Homo sapiens: one gene and its partners. The protein of the gene in region 3 purifies or fractionates together with the protein of the main gene of each other region. This does not show direct contact. Each region holds a gene or a part of one and is shown on either strand. Other genes may lie near its edges. The genes, in order: MYOF, CCDC107 and SPRY4.

Evidence for each region.
Region 1: the proteins of SPRY4 (region 3) and MYOF purify together in Homo sapiens (affinity purification with mass spectrometry; one large-scale study listed by BioGRID and IntAct). This does not show direct contact.
Region 2: the proteins of SPRY4 (region 3) and CCDC107 purify together in Homo sapiens (co-immunoprecipitation; one large-scale study listed by IntAct). This does not show direct contact.

What each region holds. Positions count from the first base shown.
Region 1 is NC_000010.11:93,480,106-93,483,853, forward strand, and holds the start of MYOF (myoferlin), read right to left. Parts: upstream 2,230-3,748; 5' UTR 2,090-2,229; coding exon 2,002-2,089; intron 1-2,001. UniProt on the Homo sapiens protein: Calcium/phospholipid-binding protein that plays a role in the plasmalemma repair mechanism of endothelial cells that permits rapid resealing of membranes disrupted by mechanical stress. Involved in endocytic recycling.
Region 2 is NC_000009.12:35,656,644-35,660,391, reverse strand, and holds the start of CCDC107 (coiled-coil domain-containing protein 107 isoform A precursor), read right to left. Parts: upstream 2,101-3,748; 5' UTR 2,013-2,100; coding exon 1,907-2,012; intron 1,817-1,906; coding exon 1,665-1,816; intron 1,050-1,664; exon of another isoform or gene 1-1,049.
Region 3 is NC_000005.10:142,314,927-142,318,574, forward strand, and holds part of SPRY4 (protein sprouty homolog 4), read right to left. Parts: exon of another isoform or gene 2,135-3,648; intron 230-2,134; coding exon of another isoform or gene 183-229; coding exon 1-182. UniProt on the Homo sapiens protein: Suppresses the insulin receptor and EGFR-transduced MAPK signaling pathway, but does not inhibit MAPK activation by a constitutively active mutant Ras. Probably impairs the formation of GTP-Ras.

The DNA of each region.
Region 1 (3,748 bases), on a different chromosome or scaffold from region 3:
AGGATGTAAAATCTTCATATTATGTCTCTATTATGTAACTGCTTCAAGAAAACAAAAAATTAATAAAACCTAACACATGTAAATAAACTCTGACATAACGTGAGTCCATGATATTCACTAGCCAGATTTTCAAACCTCATTGTCCTTTAAGAGCCCAATTTTAAGCTGGGCGTGGTAGTTTACGCCTGTAATCCCAACACTTTGGGAAGCTGAGATGGGAAGAAAGTTTGAGCAAGGGAATTATAACCAGCCTGGGCAACATAGCAAGACCCAGTCTTATTCAAAAAAATTTTTTTAAATTTTTTTTAAATCCAATTTTTGCCCTTTAGATTTTTTTTTTAACCAACCAACAATTTGCCAGCTTTTTTTTTTTTTTTTTTTTTTTTTTGAGACGGAGTCTCACTCTGTTGCCCAGGTTGGAGTGCAGTAGCATGATCTCGGCTCACTGCAACCTCCTCCTCCTGGGTTGAAGCAATCCTCCTGCCTCAGCCTCCCGAGTAGCTGGGATTATAGGCATGTGCCACCATGCCCGGCTAATTTTTGTATTTTTAGTAGAGATGGGGTTTTGCCATGTTGGCCTGGCTGGTCTCGAACTCCTGCCCTCATGTGATCCACCCACCTCAGCCTCCCAAAGTTCTGGGATTACAGGCAGAAGTCACCACACCCAGCCAGCCAGCTTTGAGTTTCATTTCTTTCATTTTCTTGCTCATCCTCAGAGAGAGAGGTTTAAGAAGAGAAATAAAGGGGAAAAACGGGAAACAGAAAGGCGAAAGGTATAGATGCCTCAGGAACTGACAGGGAGTAGCAGTCAGGCTCCTGGAAGAAACGAGAAATGTAGCAAGGCATGGTCAGGAAACACATGTCTATCCATGCTCCCACTCTCTCTGCCTTTCCCTCTCTTTCCCATCCCTCTTGCCAAGAAGTGAGTTGGCAGTCTTACCAATGACAAACAAAATAGATAAAGCCTCCACACTGAGATTTAGAAACCCCACTTTAGCCAAAACTAAGTCACTTACATCAAATTGTACCATGACACCAAGCATTCCTGTCCCCTCCCCTGCAATGGCAATCAAGTGTCATAGAAAAATAGCCTTTTAAAATTACCATGAGCCTTTTATTTTTATTTATTTTTACACCCAGGCTGGAGTGCAGTGGCGTGATCACGGCTCACTGTAGCCTCAAACTCCTGGGCTCAAGCAATCCTCCTGCCTTGGCCTCCCAAAGTTGGCTCAGGGTTGAGGAGCCACTGTGCTCAGCCAACCATGAGGTTTTTAGAGATGATCTTGTCTAAACCCTTCTCGCCTGTTTTGCAGAAAAGAAAATTGAGATCCCAGAGAAATGAAGTAACTTGCCCAAGGTCATTCAGCAGGCAAGATAGAACTAGATCCCCAAATTGCAAACTAGCTGTCCAGAGTTCTTTCCTCAATGAGCAATTTAAAAGCTACAGAATGTACAAAAAAAGCTCCCCAACAGTTTAGATATAAAAACAATTACAAAGGCACAAAAGGGCAGGAAAACTCAATAAAACTATGAACTTCACCCATCCCACCTCCCAGAAACCCAGTGACAATCAAAGCAGCGTCAGGCTGGTTCAAGGAGTAATGGTGTCTCCAACAATTTAATTGCTCTTCTTCCTCCTTTACCCATTTCTCACAGGCAGAGAAAAAATGCATCTAAGACTACTGAAACTTACTTTGAACCAATACAGATGTTTGTTGATACCTGAAATTTAGTGATTCGCAAATACGTTTTCTGCCAAGAGCTTACAGAAATCACACTCTTAGAGCTAAAACATCAGGTCATTCCATGAGTCTCAAGCCCTGGAGAAAATTAAATGCCTTCCCCAGAAACGGGTCCTCTCCCCTGTCCTGCGCAGGTAACAAACGCTGCTGGAGAGACTTGGCTTCATCAGCTGTCTAAATGCAGACTTTTCAAGAAGGTGACTCAAGAAACTAACATTCCAAAACAGGACTTCAGAAAAAGAAGAAAACTTTTTCTTACCCTTAAAAATGACAGAAACAATAGGATCCGGCTTGCCAAATTTCGTTTTAGGGATATTGCTGGCAGATTCCACAATCACTCGCAGCATGGTTCTTAGCTGGTAGAAAGCAAGTTTCAGCAAACGAAGTGGAGACTAGGGCGCTGGAGCTCCGGGTCGCACCGCCCTGGGAGAGAAGTTCTCTCCCAGTGAAGGGAGGATTTCTCCCAGGGCAAGGAAGGGGAAAAGGCAAAATGGGTGGACCTCTGGCGGATTTTACTGAAGGCAACGTGTAAACTGATACCGAACTCCCCGCGTCTACGCAGTGCCGCAGGCACAGACTTATGAATTCGGGAAATGTGGAAGTGAAAAGGACAAACCCTAAACTAAAAATAATTCCGTGCGACAAATGAAACCAACATGAATTTGGAGCTAAGAAATACGGGTAGGTCAGGAAACCACTAAAATGTTGCTGCCTTTTAGCAATGGTTCGTGAAACTGAATTAATTGATTTTTCCGTCACTGCTTTCATTCTTTTCTGAGTTTCAAGGAGTTTTAAAACTTTAGTCATTATTTGCTTTTGACTTTTCGCTGTTACTTCTCACGCCATTGAACACACCCACTCAGTAACCCTATGTTCAGCTTTTTTAAAGCAGCTAAAGGGTGCCTCTTACTGGACGGCAAACGAATGACAGCGTTTATTTCAAGTAAACGCGATCCAGGCATGGGATATATAAATAATTACATATATGTATAAATAATTATATATATATATATATATATATATATATATATATATATATATATATATATATATATATAAAGGACTGAACATAGAATTTCTTCAAAACCCCTTCAGAGGTGAGAGCTGGGCGCCTAAGTTTTCCCGGCTCTTCAAATGCTGCCAATTGCCTTCAGTGAAAATGGAGAAGTGACTCCCCACTGTTTCTGGACCTACAGCTGCCCATGGTGTCTTTCTGTCCCAGAGGGTGCATGAAGACAGTGCAGCTTGGCTGAGATCACAAGAGGCGGCCTGGGGTTAGTCAGCCAGATCTGAGTGTGAGACTCTGCCTCACCACCCTGAGCTACGTCATCTTAGCAAGTTTCTTTTCTTTTCTTTTCTTTTCTTTTTTTTTTTTGACGGAGTCTCGCTCTGTCACCAGGCTGGAGTGCAGTGTAGCGATCTTGGCTCACTGCAACCTCTGCCTCCCGGGTTCAAGCGATTCTCCTGCCTCAGTCTCCCGAGTAGCTGGGACTACAGGCGTGCGCCACCACACGCAGCTAATTTTTTTTTTTTTTGTATTTTTAGTAGAGACGGGGTTTCACCATGCTGGCAAGGATGGTCTCGATCTCTTGACCTTGTGATCCGCCCGCCTCGGCCTCCGTGGCTTGAGCTTTACTGGCTTGAGCTTTACTGGCTTGAGCCACCGTGCTGGCGAGCAAGTTTCTTAACCCCTCTCTTCCTCAGTTTCCTCATCTATGAACTGGGGATAAAGGCTGTTATAAGATAAAGGTCATAGCATAGGAGCTGGCACAAAGCACACAGTAATTTGCACATGTAAGAAGTTCATGCTTATTTGTGGTCTCACAGCGTTTCTGTTAGTGCAGGCTGACTTTAAATCAGGATCTCGTTATATTTCAGAAGAAAAGGCTAAAACTTGGGATGAAGAAACATTGGGCTTCTTTTTGCTTTAGAACACACATCAAGCAGACCCACCTGTAAATAAACATTTCAAGTACATTGAATAAGCATGACTTAACCTACAAGAA
Region 2 (3,748 bases), on a different chromosome or scaffold from region 3:
AAGAAGGAAAGGGCAGTACTGAAGCAACAAGGTTCTGCTCCATCACCTCAGTCTCCAGAGCCAGCCAAGAGAGAGTGCAATTTGAGATGGAGACAGTGATTGGGTTTTTACCTCAGAGAATCACAATCCTAGTCTATCTAGCTCCTCACCCAGCATATGAAGCGACGTCCTATGTCCCACACATGGTCAGTTTGCTGAAACACCTCCAGGAATGAGCAACTCCCTCCGGTTTGAAAAAAGCTCTGGTGGCTGAGTGCTGTGGCTCACACCTGTAATCCCAGCACTTCGGGAAGCCAAGGTGGGTGGATCACCTGAGGTCAGGAGTTTGAGACCAGCCTGGCCAACACGGTGAAACCCTGTCTCTATTAAAAATACAAAAATTAGCCGGGCGTGGTGGCAGGTGCCTGTAATCCCAGTTACTTGAGAGGCTGAGGCAGGAGAATCGCTTGAACCTGGGAGCCAGAGGTTGCAGTGAGCCGAGATTGCGCCGCTGCACTCCAGCCTGGGTGACAGAGCGAGACTCCATCTCGAAAAAAACAAAAACTTTGGTTGTTAGACAGTTCATGCACAAAGCCAAAATTTGTCCTTTATGTATCTTCTTTCCATAGTGCTTACTGGAGCCTTCCAAAATAATGTCTCCTCAAGGTGACAGCCCCTCAGGAATTTGAAGGCAATGGTCACACCCTCACCCACTTTCCTGAGTTTTTTCTGGTTTATTAACGTCAGTCTTTACAGTCAGTGCTCATTGACGGTGGTTTTCTCTGGTTGTTTCCTGAACACGTAGTGCTCTTAAAGCAATGCCCTGAGGAGAATACAATTCTCCAGGGGCATTCTGATTGGCAGGTGAAGCACAGTGCCATGTTCCCAGCACTGATTTGGGAAGTGGCTTGTCACATCCCACAGTGAACTCAGTCAACTGGAATGCCTAACTCTCTTTCATAAGACCTCCTGCTACATTATGTTTCTCCCAGACTGTACTCAGGTCCAAGAACAGAATTTACTAGTCTATCCTTCTCAAAGTTCATCATTAAATTCAGTCATTCATCCTAGCCTGTCACATCTACCTGGGGTCATTATTAGCTATCTCTTCTAGTTTCATATATCTAAACTGGTTCCATCGGTTCTATTTTATAATGCAAGTACGTAATAGGGTCACGGCTAAAGACACAGCCCTGGAAGGTACTGTTTTTCAAAATGTACTGTCAACTTACATTTCAGGGCCTCCTCCCAAGGAGAACATGAGACCACTTCATATCTGGAACTCTAGAAACACTGGCTGCAGCAATCAACCTCCTGTGCCAAGGCTGGCCCCACTCTTGTAGCATGGACACTGCTAGCTGGGTTCAAATCCCAGCTCCAGCAGTTGCCAGCGCTGGGTGACCTCGAGCAAGTGACTACTCCTCACTGGATTGTAGGAGAACTAAATGTGATAGTCATTATTTACAGTTCACCACACGCTCTTCACATCCGTTACCTCCCTGGATCCTCAAAATAACCTCATAATATTGGAAGGCCAACGGACTACTGTCTTTATTTTACAGACAGGGAAGCTGTGTCTTGTTCTTGGTACCCTGGCACCCCCATGGGAGATTCGGGCTCAGGGGATCCCCACGCCCGGCGGTCCCGCACCTGCAGGGGCACCCCTACCCCCGGCCGCCCCGTACCTGCAAACACTTGTACAGCACAAAAGCCGCGACGGCCGCGGTGTACAGCGCCCCCAGAGGCAGCGACCCGGCCCGGGTCCGCTCGCGTTGATCCTTGAGCGGTGGTCGCCGCCGGGGTTCCGTGGCTCCAGAGCCGGGGTGGGCTGCGTTCCCTGCGGAGGGAGGATACAGGCGAGTCAGCCGAGCTGGGGCCTGGGACCCGTGCGCAGTCCCAGCCCTCCTCCAGCAGCCCTAGCTGGTACCTGGGTGTGCCCGGAGGTCGGGATTGGCGCGGTCTCCTAGGACCCCGGACAGCGCAGACACAAGCAGCAGCCCCACCACACCCAAGAGCGAAACTGCGCCCGCCATTGCCGGCCCACGGGTGGAGGGATCGGGCGGGCGGTGCCGAAGCGGTCCGGCATTGGCCGGCCGCCCCAACGCGCACGCGCACGCGAGCAGGCCGGCCGGCTCCGGGGAGGCCACGCCCACTCCCCGTAGGGCGGGGCCAGACCATATTTGCATAAGATAGTGTCATTCTAGCTTTCCTGTATTTGTTCATTTCGTGTCTATTAGCTATTCTGCTAGCCACAATGCCTCTGAAAGCCTATAGTCTTAGAAAGTTATGCCCGAAAACGGTTTTTTTAATCTCACGCCACCAACTTTCTCACCCTAATCATAAAACACAATTTCTTTAGGGCTATAAAATACTACTCTGTGAAGCTGAGGACGTGGTTCGTGCTGAAGGCCTGTATCCTAGGCTACACACTGAGGACTCTGTTCCTCCCCTTTCCGCCTAGGGGAAAGTCCCCGGACCTCGGGCAGAGAGTGCCACGTGCATACGCACGTAGACATTCCCCGCTTCCCACTCCAAAGTCCGCCAAGAAGCGTATCCCGCTGAGCGGCGTGGCGCGGGGGCGTCATCCGTCAGCTCCCTCTAGTTACGCAGGCAGTGCGTGTCCGCGCACCAACCACACGGGGCTCATTCTCAGCGCGGCTGTTTTTTGTTCCCGAGACCACGGCTCACTGCAGCCTCGACCTCCCCGGGCTCACGCGATGCCTCACCTCAGGCTCCCAAGTAGTTGGGACCGCAGGCGCACGCCATCATGCCTGGCTAATTTTTGTATTTTTTGTAGAGACGGATTTTCACCTGTTGCCCAGGCTGGTCTCGAACGCCTGGTGTCAAGCGATCAGTCCACCTCGCCCTCCCAAAGTGCTGGGATTACAGGCGTGACACCGCGCCCGGTCAACGCGGCTGCTTTTCATGCGCGGGCAGCTTTACGCTGTTCTTGGCCTTGCTATGAAGTCCTTGTGCTCATTACTCCAAATATGGAGCATTCCTGAAACAGCCTCCTCTTCTACCTCCCTCTCCCTTTGGCAAACGCCATAGTAGCCACCATTCACTGTGTAGCTGGTACACAACATATGGACTCTGCTTGGGCTAGAATCCTGCCTCCTGTACTCAAGAGCGGTGACCTTGTGAAACTTAGTTCTCTCTCCGTGCCTTCCTTTCCACTCTGAGGAATGAAGATAAGCACTTACTTCAAGAGCTATGATGATTAAATGGGATCACTCAAGTTAGAACCGTGCCTACTTATTAGTGATTTTTTTTTTTTTGGAACGGCGGGTCGCTCTCTTGCCCAGGCTGGTCTTAAACTCCTGGGATCCTCCCGCTTCAGCCTCCCGGGTAGTTGACATTACAGGCACGTGCCACCCCGACGGACTCTAGTGATTTTTTAACTTGAGCAGCTACTACTGTAAGCCAGACAGTTGAAATTACACTGACTCTCCCTGACATGCCGCTGCATTCCCTTTCTGCATACTGGGTTCTACACGACCTTCAGTTCTCAGCTCAAGTGTGTTCCCATCATTCGGAACCCTTAATTCAACTTCTAATTTATTCTTTAGTGCCGCTATTTCACTTTCTTCAATACCACTAGACAAGCAGTCCCCAACCTTTTTGGCATCAGGGACCGGTTTCGTGGAAGACAATTTTTCCATGGACGAAGCGGGGTGGAGGGATGGTTTCCGGATGAAACTGTTCCACTTCAGATCGTCAAGCATTAGATTCTCACGAGGAGCGTGCAACCTAGATCCCTCCCATGCAC
Region 3 (3,648 bases):
GTCAGGGCCAGGCTAGGGTTGTCTATGTAGTCATTCTCCACATGGCTGGTCTTCACCTGGTCAATGGGTAGGATGGTGAGTGGGTGCTGGAGCCGGCTGTGGGACATCCGGCTGTCAAGAAGGGGCTGGACCATGACTGAGTTGGGAGTCAAGGGGGCGCTCTGTGGGATCGGGGGCTCCATGGGGCTGGAGGTCCTGGACTGTACGGAGAAACAGGCTTCTAGGGGCCCTGGGGGTGGGGTGGGGAAAAGGAAGAGAGAATGGATTCCAGGCATCAGTATGTGGCCTGCCAATACCTCACCCCCCATCAGGTCCTTGGGAGCCGCCCAATTGACATAGGAACTAAAATCCCTCTGTGGACTTTCCAGTGACTCCCCAAGCTTAAGATGATTAATAATGACAAGAAGTCAGTGGTGGAAATAATACTACTGAGCACTTAAGATGGAGGTACTCTCCTAAGCACCATATGCATTAAGTCATTGACTTCATGATAAGCCTAAAACGTAACTACTATTATCCCCCTTTTCTATTTAGAGAAAAGACATGTTGAAATTAATTTGTCCAAAGTCACACAAAACTATCCAAAACTATCAGTAGCAGGACTCAAACCTGGGCAGCCTGAGTTCATTCTCTTAGTCACTGTGAAACATGCTCCTTATTTAAGACACATAGCTCAGTGGATGTAAACACAGGCTCTGGAACAACACTCAAATTTGACTCTCACTTTGGTCTAGCAATATTGCTATGAATGAGTTCTTTCATCTCTATGCCTTAGATTTTGGTTTTGTCATCTGTAAAATGGGCTCTTGCAAGGATTAAATGAGAAAATACTATCTATTACCTAGCATATTACCTGGCACGCAGCAACAATTTATCGCTACCCCAGGGAATAAGTTTAGATCTCCTGAGCACTTACAAGCACTGCCTGCCAAGCACTGTGCCAGGCACTGGGGACAATGTGGTGAACTCAACAGACAGCTCTGGGTGCTCCCATGGAGTTTATCAGCTGGATAAACAAGCCCTTTATTTCAGATATTCACAAGAGAAGGGCTGTATCTGATGCCTGCACATCCAGGATATTAACTTATTACTACCACTTCTTAAGAGCAGCAACCTGCAGTGGCTAATAATCCCTGGGTATGTGAGCTTCTGACAACTTGGATGGGAAATCCTCTCGAGGGGCACTCACATCACCCATTTCCAAGTGCTGAGCTGAACATTCAGCCTAAATGCTATTTACTAGAGTAGCTAAGCCAACCCTGGATCAGTTTCTAATTTCACCGAGAGAGTGCAATTTTAAGTTGGAATCCAGCCAGAGATTCAACTGCAGTGCCTGACACGGAACCCCAGGAAGTCACTTAAATCAAAGAGCGGAAACTGCTTGGTTCAAATTTAGAAAGTGCACATTGTTTTCTATTAGAAGTGCCATTTCCTTGCCTGCTGACCTTTACATTTGGAATTCTGCTGGAGATCAATTTAAAGAAATAGCAGCAGAAGGCCAAGACCTCTGCTCAAGGGGATACAATTTGGAATCCAAGGGAAAGATTACACTCTGGGAAGATTCCACCCCAATCTTAAGAACCCCAGGGAATGGGGAGGGAGGGTAAAAGAGAAAGATAAGTCTTTAAAACAAAACCAAAAAAAGGCCATTGCATTAATGTATTATGGGGTGGGGTTTTAGTAAATGCTTTTGCATTTACTAAATTTGCATCAAGATGCTAACGATGTTCTAATTAGGAGAGCTGATCCTGCCCCTCTGCTGTTAGGTTTATCTAGAACCTGTCTAAAATAAAAAGCTAGCTCTAGATAAAAGTTTATGAAGGGGATAAAAAGGGGGCTATCCACGGGGCTCCAGTATGTATATCACTTACACTGCTAAATCCAAAAAGCATCCAGTCTTTTCTGCGAGGTTCAATGCTCAGTCAACTGATATTTCCCATTCACGCAGGGCATCAACTATTGGCTTTGCTCCCATGGCCCTGCCTACTTAAAAGGATGCTGGTATTTCTTTACACGCCTTGTTTTTCCTGTCTTGGAGAAAGCCTACCTAGTGGCAGTGCCTGCCCCCATGTTCTCTTCGGATGAAACCATAGCATCACCTTTGAATTGGCGATTTCCTTGTGGCAGAGTTTACCTTAAGTGTCTGGCAGGTCTGCCACCAAAGAGTAGCCACTTGCCAAAGCAGCCTCCCCTGGAGATCCTGTGGTCAGGGCTGGAGAGAGGGAATGCAAGTAAGCATCTATGGAGAGGAGTTTTTCCAAGGATCAGGCTGATGACAACGTAGGAATTCCAGGGAATGCTACCTCAGCCTGCCCACTTATTCTCAATAGGTGTTCCAAAGCCTTGCTTCTAGAATAAATGAGTTTGGGGCAAGAGGCCAGGGTTAGGAGCCCAAGGTCCAGCACTGAGGACGCTGCCTGGAGGAAAGGGTGTGGCTTGGCCTAAGAATTAAAAATGCCACGGATAAGATTCTCCAGCACCAGCCAGAACCCTCACCCCCGGACAATGATAACATGAGTCCCTTGTTCCAGAAACCGATGTCAGGAATATTCAGGGTCCTGCCAACACAATGTAGGCAGCAGTTTGAAGCTTCTATTGCCCCATATAGTTGGGTTTTGTCTCTCAGGACCAGGATTGGGTCTGGTCATGCTGTGGAAGAAAGTAAAAGACTCCCTTTCCTTAAGCAGATTCACTTTTTTTTTTTTTTTTCATTTGTGAGGTTCTTTAAAAACAGCCCATGTCCTACAGATAAAGCAAAAGAAATGGGCAATGCTCAGAAATTTTAATAGGCCTTGGAATCAGAAAGCAGATTCCCCAATTCATGGAAAAGTCCCACCAGGAAGCCAGGATGGGAGCAGCCGCTGCAGGCAATGGGGATGTTGGCATTCACAGGCTCCCATAACCCTCCAGAGGCAGCTGTCAACATCTGGGCCTGCAGTTGAGGCCAGACATGGGGATGGGAGCTTGGCCCACGATGACTTGGCTCTCTGGGGACGATGCAGCATCCGATGGCTCCACTGGGCATATTCTAAAATGTATCTTCCCTATTATAACCCCGATGTAGTAGGATTCCTTTCAACCACCAGCTCAGCAAAAACCAAATCAGAGTTCCACTGCTGGCCTCACCCCTCACCAGCAGGGACCCTCCAAGAGCCTCTGCTGAATTTATGTGGCTGACAAAGGAAAACAATTTTCTGAGCTGCCTATTTAAGAACCCCTCAGCACAGCTAAATGATGTCTCAAAAAAAAAAAGAAAGAAAAAAAGAAAAGAAAGAAGGCCTGGCGCAGTGGCTCATGCCTGTAATCTCAGCCTTTTGGGAGGCCAAGGTAGGCAGATCACTTGAGGTCAGGAGTTCAAGACCAGCCTGACCAACAGGATGAAACCCCCATCTCTACTAAAAATACAAAAATTAGCCAGGCATGGTGGCAGGTGCCTGTAATCCCAGTTACTTGGGAGGCTGAGGCAGGAGAGTCACTTGAACCCAGGAGGCGGAGGTTGCTGTGAGCCAATATCGCACCACTGCACTCTAGCCTGAGTGACAGAGCAAGACTGAGTCTCAAGAAAAAAAAAAAGAAAGAAAGAAAAAGAAAAAACAACTCTCAGTTGATTTGGTAGATCAATCTCTACTCACTGAGAAACACCCACCC